Linked DNA regions of Homo sapiens: region 1 is linked to region 2. The links come from fine-mapping of genetic effects on gene expression. A gene starts in region 2. The other region holds a variant in brackets. All regions are shown on one strand. Distances are between the middles of the regions.

Region 1 (5,366 bases), 78 kb before region 2:
AAAATTAGCCAGGTGTGGTGGCACACGCCTGTAATCTCAGCTACTCAAGAGGCTGAGGCAGGAGAATCGCTTGAACCTGGGAGACAGAAGTTGCAGTGAGCCAAGATAGTGCCACTGCACTCCAGCCTGGGCAACAGAGCAATACTCCATCTCAAAAAAAAATAATGAATAAATAAAATAAAAAAGAAGATTGTGCTTTCATTTGGTGGTAATCGTCCCCAGCTATGCCCTCTGCTCCTCATCCTCCTAGGTATAGTTCAAAGTCGTTTCCCAGTCCCCTTAAGCTCACTTCTCCTTCCAATTCCTTTCACTGCAGGGAGTATCCGGAAACACACTCTCTTCTCAGGACAACCTGGGCCCAACTGGCAGGCTGTTTCTGTCAATTACACAGCCGTGGGACGGATACAGGTACAGAGAAGCAAGGGGTCAGGTCCTTGCACATGGTAGGCACACCCAATGTTGAAATAAATTGAGGGGCCTGGTGCTGTGGCTCATGCCTGTATTCCCAATACTTTGGGAGGCTGAGGAGGGAGGATCGCTTCAGGACAGGAGTTCAAGACCAGCCTGGGCAACATAGAAAGACCCCATCTCTACAAAAAAATACAAAAATTAGGCGGGCACAGTGATGTGTGCCTGTAGTCCCAGCTACTAGGGAGCCTGAGGTGGGAGGATCACTTGAGCCCTGGAGGTCAAGGCTGCAGTGAGCTATGATCACACCACTGTACTCCAGCCTGGGCAATAGAGCAAGACTCTGAAAAAAAAAAAAAAAGAAAGAAAGAACTGAATTGAGGGTCTGGGCACAGGGAGTAGGGATTCTGGGTCCTGGAATGGAGTCGAGTTAGATCAGGGGCTTGGGGGTGTGGGCTGTGTGCTCACTCCTGCTCCATCTCCCTTTCTCTCCAGTTTGCCGTGGTAGGCGTTTTTGGAAAGACCCCAGAGCCAGCTGTGGCAGTTGATGCAACCAGCATTGCTCCTTGTGGGGGTGAGAGCAGGCCCTGAGAGGCCCGGATCTCTCAGAATCCGGGGTGGGCTGGGGGAGGGCTGGAGAGCGTCACTCAACTTGCTCAAATATCCTATTTTGATCCCCCAGAGGGTTTTCCTCAGTGTGACTTTGAAGACAACGCCCATCCCTTCTGTGACTGGGTCCAGACTTCCGGGGATGGTGGACACTGGGCCCTCGGACATAAAAATGGACCCGTCCATGGCATGGGCCCTGCGGGAGGTTTCCCTAATGCAGGTGAGGAGATTGAGGAGCGCTCACGCCAAGAAATCACTCAGTCTGCTCCCAGGTAGCAGGCTGGCTGCTGTGACTGATGGGAGACGTTGTTTCAGGCAGTGGGAAGATCAGTCCACAGGTGTTTTTTCGGAAGTTTCCATGGTACTGGAATTGTGGAGATAGCAGAGTAACTTAAAGATTCTCAGGGCTGGGGGGTCACTGAAATCCTGAGAAAACCCAGGCATCTCACTTCATGGAGCCCAAAGCTTCAAAACCCACCACCTCATTTTCAGTCTAGACGTTTATGAGTGGCTCATGCCTGCAATTCCAGCACTTTGAGAGGCCGAGACGGGAAGATTGCTTGAGCCCAGGAGTCTGAGCTCAGCCTGGGCAACATAGTGAGAACCCCATCTCTAGAAAAAAAAATTTTTTTTTAATTAGCTAGATGTGGTGGTGTGTGCTTGTGGTCCCACCTACTTGCGAGGCTGATGTGGGAGGATCGCTTCAGCTCAGAAGTCAAGGCTGCAGTGAGCTATGATTGAACCAGTGCACTCCAGCCTGGGCAACAGAGCAAGACCTTGTCTCTAAAAATTAAAAATAAAAAAATAGGCCAGGCATGGTGGCTCACGCCTTTAATTCCAGCACTTTGGGAGGCCGAGGCAGGTGGATCACTTGAGGTCAGGAGTTCGAGACCAGCTGGGCAACATAGTGAAACCCTGACTCCACTAAAAAAAATGTAAAAATTAGCCGGGAGTGGTGGCGTGCACCTGTAGTCCCAGCTACTCAGGAGGCTGAGGCAGGAGAACTGCCTGACCCCAGGAGGTGGAGACTGCAGTGAGCTGAGATCGCACCACTGCACTCCATCCGGGGCAACAGAGTAAGATTCTGTCTTAAAAATATATAAAAAGAGGCTGGGCGCAGTGGCTCACACCTGTAATCCCAGCACTTTGGGAGGCCAAGGAGGGCGGATCACAAGGTCAGGAGATCGAGACCATCCTGGCTAACACGGTGAAACCCCGTCCCTACTAAAAACACAAAAAATTAGCCAGGCATGGTGGTGGGCGCCTGTAGTCCCAGCTACTCGGGAGGCTGAGGCAGGAGAATGGCGTGAGCCCGGGAGGCAGAGCTTGCAGTGAGCCGAGATCACGCCATTGTACTCCAGCCTGGGTGACAGAGTGAGACTCCGTCTCAAAAAAAAAAAAATATATATATATATATATATATATACACACACACACATATATATACACACATATATATATACACACACACACATATATATATATAAAGAAATAATTTTTTAAAAAGACAATAATGAGGGTGGGGTGCAGTGGCTCACACCTGTAATCCCAATGCTTTGGGAGGCTGAGACGGGT[G/A]GATCACTTGAGGCCGAAAGTTCAAGACTAGCCTGGCCAACATGGTGAAACCCCACCTCTACTAAAAACACAAAAATTAGCCAGACATGGTGGTACACACCTGTAATCCCAGCTACTTGGGAGGCTGAGGCAGGACAATCGCTTGAACCTGGGAGGTGGAGGTTGTAGTGAGCTGAGATCGTGTCACTGCACTCCAGCCTGGGCAACAGAGCGAGACTCCATCTCAAAAAAACAACACACACACACACACACACACACACACACACACACACACGACATTAATGAATGTAATCTAGGTTGCTGGTTTGTTATTCCCTTTTTTTCTTTTTTGAGATGGAGTCTTGCTCTGTTGCCAGGCTGGAGTGCAGTGACGTGATCTTGGCTCACTGCAACCTCCACCTCCGGAGTTCAAGCAATTCTCCTGCCTCAGACTCCCGAGTAGCTGGGACTCCAGGCACGGGCCACCACGCCCAGCTAATTTTTGTATTTTTAGTGGAGACGGGGTTTCACCATGTTGGCCAGGATGGCCTTGATCTCTTGACCTCGTGATCCGCCAGCCTCGGCCTCCCAAAGTGCTGGGATTACAGGCATGAGCCACCGTGCCTGGCCGCTTTTCCCTTTCTTTGTGATCCCACCTTCTTTAGTTAGATGTCTAAAATGAGCAGAAAAAATAATGCTACGACCTGGGAAATTTGAGTGTTTGCTCAGATTCCCGTTCAGAAAGCAAAGCTTTGCTAAAGCAGCAGTTGGCATGTCCTGTGCAGGCTTCTTACCTTGCCTGTTCCCTTCCTTTGCCTAGGGGGTCACTATATCTACCTTGAGGCTGACGAGTTCTCCCAGGCAGGCCAGTCAGTCAGACTGGTGAGCCGGCCCTTCTGCGCCCCAGGTGACATCTGCGTGGAGTTCGCATACCACATGTATGGCCTTGGGGAGGGTACTATGCTCGAACTCCTCCTGGGAAGTCCTGCGGGGAGTCCCCCGATTCCTCTCTGGAAACGCGTGGGGTCTCAGCGCCCTTACTGGCAGAACACCTCCGTCACCGTCCCCTCAGGACACCAACAGCCCATGCAGGTGAGAGACGGAGGCGGGGGTCCTGTCTGTGTGAGGTGAGAGGGCCAATGCCTGGGATCTGGGGGCGCCACCAGTGCTGAAGAGGTGGAAAGCTGGAAAGAGAGCCGAGAAAAGGGGAACTTCGTGTTACAGAAAGTGAGAAAGGGGCCGGGATGGGGCTGGACTGTTGAGGCTGGAACAAGGCGACATTTTGGCAGAGAACAGATTCTATGCCCAGTGGAATCACAGAGTTGCTGGAGATTCATTTTTGTTTCTCTCTCCGTCTCTCTCCCTTGTCGCCTTTAGCTTATTTTCAAGGGCATCCAGGGAAGCAACACGGCCTCTGTGGTTGCTATGGGTTTCATCTTGATCAATCCTGGGACTTGTCCAGGTAAGACCAAAGCCCAGGCTCCAGGAAGGGGGCGGTGCCCTGAGGTTCCCTGGAGTTCTCTCTATGAACTGCTTAAAATGTGAGTCCTCCCTGGAGCCCGAATTCTCACCCAGCTGGCTTTGTTTTCCATCTTCAACACACCTCTCCTTCCCCTGCACTTCAAGATGTTTGCCTGGGTGAATGTGGCTTCGATACCATGGATTTTGGGGGCTGGATCCAGAACTCCTTCCTCTGCAGTCTTGAAGGCTGGACCCATATCCTATTCATTTCTGGCATAATATCTGACATATATTAGTGTTCGTTGAGTGGATGAAGGTTGGGGTTTGGGAGTAGAAAGAGAGGTGTGAATAAGCCACCCATGGGAGCCCACTCCAGTTAGATGGCAGTAAAGAGGGTGGTGGTATGGTTTTGACTAAACTCCAGGGATTCTTATTTTTCTTTGCAGTAAAAGTGCTACCAGAGCTTCCTCCCGTATCTCCAGTTTCTTCCACTGGCCCTTCTGAAACCACTGGCCTCACAGAAAACCCTACAATCTCCACCAAGAAACCTACAGTTTCCATAGAAAAACCCAGTGTCACCACAGAAAAGCCCACAGTCCCCAAAGAAAAGCCCACCATTCCCACAGAAAAACCCACCATCTCCACAGAAAAACCCACCATTCCTTCAGAAAAACCCAACATGCCCTCAGAAAAACCCACCATTCCCTCAGAAAAACCCACCATCCTCACAGAAAAACCCACCATTCCCTCAGAAAAACCCACCATTCCCTCAGAAAAACCCACCATTTCCACAGAAAAACCCACCGTCCCCACAGAAGAGCCCACCACCCCCACTGAGGAGACCACCACCTCCATGGAAGAGCCTGTCATCCCTACAGAAAAACCCAGCATCCCTACAGAAAAACCCAGCATCCCCACGGAAAAACCCACCATCTCCATGGAAGAGACTATCATCTCCACAGAAAAACCCACCATCTCCCCAGAAAAACCCACCATCCCCACAGAAAAACCCACCATCCCCACAGAAAAATCCACCATCTCCCCAGAAAAACCCACCACCCCCACAGAAAAACCCACCATCCCCACAGAAAAACCCACCATCTCCCCAGAAAAACCCACCACCCCCACAGAAAAACCCACCATCTCCCCAGAAAAACTCACCATCCCCACAGAAAAACCCACCATCCCCACAGAAAAACCCACCATTCCCACAGAAAAACCCACCATCTCCACAGAAGAGCCCACCACCCCCACTGAGGAGACCACCATCTCCACAGAAAAACCCAGCATCCCCATGGAAAAACCCACTCTCCCCACTGAAGAAACCACCACCT
Region 2 (5,352 bases):
GCTCCCGCCGAGGCCTCACATCTGGATTTGGTTATGGGAAGGCAGAGGGGAGGAGATTCTGGGGGGCGGTATGAATGGGAGGGGTGAACACACCTGGCTTGGCTCGGATCATCGGGGGAGGGGACAGGCACTGGAGGAAGGGGGGGGATTAGGAAAAACTGCACAGCCCCTGGCAGTGGAGAGTGGAGGAGGGAGGGTACAGGAATCCCCTCGGGGGCCGGCAATGTGGGGGGCATTGGGCGCTGGGAAGGGTGGAGAGGGGAGCCAGAACACCTGGCTCCCACCCCATGGGAGCTGCAGGAGAGAAGAGAAAGAGGGTGGGTGAGGCAGCCTCTTCCTGGGGACCAAATGATGTCCTCCAGCTAGGGGTCAGATGGGAAGCCAGCCAGCCTGAGGTGAGAGGCGCAAGGTCCCCATGGGTGGCAAGAGACAGCCCTGCTCACTGGGGACAGGATGCCCGGGTTCTGGGAAGGGGGTGGATAGAGGCTGCCGTCTCCACCCTCCATTGTTCCAGCCGGGATAGTGTTTTCCTGTCTCCAATTTACACACTGTCTCTGCCTCGGGCTGTCCGCAGCCCAGAGCAAGCGCAGGCTCCCTTTCTGCGTCCCAGCTCAGCTGCAGCCACGCTTTGATCTGTCAGTTCGCATGTCTCTCACCTATCTCTCCTCCACTCTCTGTCCACCTCCGTTTCTCTTTCTGACAGTCACTATCTCTCCTTCGCTTTCGGCCTCCACTTCTCGCTGTTCCTCGCGGCACAGGGCCTTGGATAAACTACTTAACCTTAACTAAGCCCCAGCCTCCTCATCTGAAAAATGGGGGCAATAATAGCACCACCCTTAGCGTTGCTGGATGGGTGAAATTAATATTTGTAAGGCGCTCAGCACAGGCCTGGTGCTTGGAAACACTCAGGTAATAGGTGTCACAATCACCATTTCCTCTTTGCGTCTTTCCTTCTCACCACACCTCGTCCTCGTGGTTTTTCCACCCCTTTGGCCTTCCTCTTCCCCTCGTTCATGGTTTTTGTTCCCCCTTCTCCGTTCTCTGAGCTGGGCAAGCCTCCCCTCACTCCCAACCCCACACCTAGCCTTTGATCCCCAGCCCAGGGCAGTCCTGCCCAGCCAGGGGGAGAGGGTTTTTCTAACGCCGCTGAATCCTTCCCTTTGGGAGTCCCTCATAGCCTACCGCCCCATAACCACTTTCATACCAGACAGAGAAAGGGGGGTGTTGGCAGCTCACTGAAAGGACATTAGGGACACAGGAGAGTTTCTAGGGCTCTTGGCTCCCCCTTTAGGGGACCAGGAGGGACAGCGATCCATGGCCAAAGAAATGCTTGGAGAGACCAGGAGGTGGGAGATAGACTGGGTTAGTTAGGGCGATGTGGGGGCTGTGTAGGTCAGTTTCTACCTGGGGGCTGTGTAGGTCAGTTTCTACCCGCTCCTAGGTCTCAAGGGAAGCCCGGGACTCACCTGGGGCCGGGGTCTAGACCGCATTTAAAGGGATGGGGTGCAGCCTGTAGAAACCAAGGAGCCACCCTATACCAGGGGCAGGAGCAGTGGGCGGGAGAGCGGTTTGGGGGTTTGCTGTGTGAATGCAAAGGAGGCCATCCTGTTGCAGGAGTGTGGAACTGGAGGATCAAGGTGTGATCGCTAAGGAATTGGCGCTGGGGGTCGTTTTAGGGCCTAGCACGAAAAGTTGTGCCTTGTCTGCTGTTGCTTCTCCAGAAACCTTCCCTCATGTACGGCGGGAGGTGGGACTGGGACAGAAACTTTGCAGATAGTTTTGAATAGTGGGGTAGGGAGGAAAGGAAAGGCAGCCAGGGGCGTATGTAATCAGCAGTGAGAGTTCGGGGAGCCCGGGCAGGGGAATGTCCCGGGTCGTAGCCAGACTCCATCTCTTTCCCAAACAAAAGAAAACTCCACTACCCGTCGGGCGCCTCTTCCCCGCCCCCCTCCCGTTCCAGCACTATCGGTCCGAAGTGTTTGGGACTGCAGTGCCCGGGTAGGGGTAGTCAGAGGCCGGCCCCTCCACTCCGAGGCCCAGATGTTGGGGGGGAGGTCCCAGGAGTGACGGGGTGCGCCCCCCCCCGCAAGGAAACTCACCTTCCAAAGCTGCGGCCAACGAAGCCCAGCAGAGCAGCACCCGGAGCTCCATGGCGCCGCCTCACTCGGGTAGGATCCGAACTGAGTTTGGGGGGCCCTCGCCCCCCCAGGTCTGACTCTCCCTGGGCGGGTGGACGCCGATACTCCGCGCGGGACTCCTCGTCGGGGCCCTCAGCGCGGGCCCATGCGAGCGTGCGGGGCACCGGGCGGCGGCGCCAAGTGTGGCCCCGCGTCTGTGCCGCGCGCGCGGGCGGCGGGCCCGGAGCGTGCTGGCAGTGGCCGCGCCGGGCGGGCGCGCAGCAAGACGTGGCTGGAGTTGGGGTCCCTCCGGGGCCTCGGGGTCCCGCCCCGGGTGGCGGGGGCTGAGCCGGCCGCTCGCGGTCTCCCCCCCTCCCTGGAGTGGCTCTGCTCGCGCCGCCGGGCCGAGTGCTCTCCTCGCGGGCGGGGATGGTGGGAGCCCGAGCGGGGACGGAGCGGGAGGGAGGGAGACTGCGGCGCGGAGCCGGGCGGGCCGGGCCGGGCAGGGGCTGAGCTGCGCTGGAACTGGGCCGGGCGGCGCCGGGCCCGGGAGGGAGGGGCGCGCGGGGGGCGGGGGCAGCTCTCCCAACGCGGGGGCTCCGCGAGTGAGCCCCGGGCGCGCTGATTGGAGCTCACGCTACTGAATAATTCATGAGGGAAGCGGAGAGGGGCACCGAGTGGAGCAGGTCGGGAAGTTGAGAGAAAGTTTGGAGAAGGGGGAGGGGCGGCGGGTGAGGAACCCCGGGACCGCCCAGATGTGCGCCGTGGCGGTGCGCGCTGTCCAGGACCGAGCATGTCGGGGCTGGGGCCCAGGGACCCCCGGGACAGGCCCGAACCCGGCTGGCACCAGGGAGCAGAGAAAACACACACCCAGCAGCAACACGGAGGGCCGCCCAGGCGTGCACGTAAATGTTCACCGCGCACACAAAGCCCGCTCTGACCTTGCTGCGGACTCTAGATGCCGCTCTTGGATGCGCCCACCACCCTCTAGTGGGCGCAGGGACTGCGTTTTGGGGGAAAAGGAAGGAAAAGGGAGTAGAAGCTTTGGAGAATTGACGGCCGCCCAGGGGGCCTCAAGGAGCAATCCCAGTTTGGATAGCCTTGCAGCGAACGTTCACACAGTCACCCCATAAACATTCAGTGTTGGGGACCTACTGTGCGCGCAACCAAGCCCTGAAAAATGTCCAGAGGAGGCGCGCACTAAGCTGCGCTAGGGAGTAGAGAAAAATCGAGGAAACAACGGTAAAGAAAAGGTGGGTGTGGCGGGCGCGGTGGCTCACGCCTGTAGTCCCAGCATTTTGGGAGGCAGAGGCAGGCGGATCATTTGAGGTCAGGAGTTCAAGACCAGCCTGGCCAACATGATGAAACCCCGTCTCTACTAAAAATACAAAAATTAGCTGGGCATGGTGGCGCGCGCCTGTAATCCTAGCTACTCGGGAGGCTGAGGCAGGAGAATTGCTTGAACCGGGACCTAGGAGGCGGAGGTTGCAGTGAGCTGGGAGCTGAGATCGCGCCACTGCACTCCAGCCTGGGCTACAGAGTGAGACGAAATCTCAAAAAAAAAAAAAAAAAAAAAAAAGGTGGGTGTGTCCGAGAGGGTGAGGGGTCCGGCTAGATCTCCAAATCGCCCTTCTCACTCTCACTCTCGTGTTTTGGGGGGGCTTCCCCGCCGCCCGCAGCCATGACCCCTGAGGCTGGGGCTGCGGCTGCGGCTGCTGTCTTTCCTGAGCTGTTTCCTGTCTGGCTCCTGGGGGCCCTCGGGATGGCTGGGAGGGGCCCTTCCTCTCACTGCCAACTCCCCTCACCCTCCCATCAGTTAGCGGGGAGGGTCCAGCACAGCCGTGCTCCTCCCACCAACCCCCTTCTACTTCAGGGAACTTAACAGTATGGGTTACTGGATAGATGGATTGGAGGGGGTGCTGCTCCAGGAGTCAGCCCCTCCAAGGGGCAGAAGGAAAGGACTTAGACTCCCACAGTAATTAGCGGGGACAGATTTTTTTTTTTTTTTTGAGACAGAGTCTCCCTCTATTTCCCAGGCTGGAGTGCAGTGGCGTGATCTGGGCTCACTGCAACCTCCGCCTCCCAGGTTCAAGCGATTCTCCTGCCTCAGCCTCCCGAGTAGCTGGGATTACAGGCACAGGGCACCAACCCCGGCTAGTTTTCGTATTTTTAGTAGAGACAGGGTTTCGCCATGTTGGCCAGGCTGGTCTCGAACTCCTGACCTAAAGTGATCCACCCACCTTGGCCTCCCAAAGTGCTGGGATTACAGACGTTAGCCACCGCGCCCAGCCGGAGGACAGAATCTTGAGGAGCCCAGCAAGAGAGACGTTGGAGCCCAGCAAGAGAGACGTTGGAGTCCAGGATGCTTGGGGGGCTGCCAAGCGCCCTTACGTCCCAGAAAGGACAGCCGGGCCTGTGATAACCTCTTGTCCCGGCTTACTTATCTTCCTGCTGCAAGAGGTGTTCCCCACACCCCTGCCCTTCCTTGCTGTTCTGCCTGGGTCCTGCGCCCGGGTTGGGGGGGGTGGGCCGGTCACCGAGGGCAGGAAACAGCCGGCTTCACTGGAGCCAGGCAGACCAGGCTGGAGCTGGGAATTCCCTCCTCCCTCCCCGATGCAGGCCCAGTCTCCCCTTCTCTTATTCAGCTTCTCCCTCGGGGTTCTCTGCAACCCTCTCCCAAACCCCTGCCCTGCCTTTTGCCACTCTCACTCTGTACCCAGATCCTGTAGCCTCTAAAAGTTATGTCTTCTGGCTGGGGACAGTAGCTCAGGTCTGTAATCTCAGCATTTTGGGAGGCCGAGGCGGGTGGATCACTTGAGCCCAAGAGTTCGAGACCAGCCTAGCCAACATGGTGAAACCCCTCTCTACTAAAAATACAAAAATCAGCTGGGCATCATGGCACACACCTGTAGTCCCAGCTACTAGGGAGGCTGAGGCACGAGAATCGCTTGAACCCGGGAGGCAGAAGTTGCAGTGAGCAGAGATTGCACCACTGCACTCCAGCCTGGGCAACAGAGCCACACTCTGTCTCCAAAAAATATATAAAGTAAATAAATAAGTAAATAAATAAATAGGCTGGGCGCAGTGGCTCACACCTGTAATCCCAGCACTTTGGGAGGCCGAGGCAGGCGGATCACCTGAGGTCAGGAGTTCGAGACCAGCCTGGCCAACATAGTGAAACCCCTTCTCTACTGAAAATACAAAACTTAGCCAGGTGTGGTGGTGCAGGCCTGCA

Evidence for each region.
Region 1: its variant is fine-mapped to the expression of EPHB4 in whole blood (TOPMed, PIP 0.92).

What each region holds. Positions count from the first base shown.
Region 1 is chr7:100,747,234-100,752,599 of GRCh38, forward strand. It overlaps ZAN (zonadhesin), which reads left to right. Exons shown (of 48, transcript NM_003386.3): 9 at 317-408; 10 at 904-982; 11 at 1,091-1,237; 12 at 3,392-3,663; 13 at 3,949-4,033; 14 at 4,479-5,366. Among named protein-coding and RNA genes, the nearest start is that of ZAN, 16 kb to the left of the region's middle. The variant G/A (reference allele first, on the strand shown) is at 2,593.
Region 2 is chr7:100,824,880-100,830,231 of GRCh38, forward strand. EPHB4 (EPH receptor B4) reads right to left here and starts at 2,644. Exons shown (of 17, transcript NM_004444.5): 1 at 2,100-2,644. The coding sequence starts at 2,151. It also overlaps a transcript of SLC12A9 not described here. RefSeq lists enhancers at 2,648-3,443, 4,240-5,035.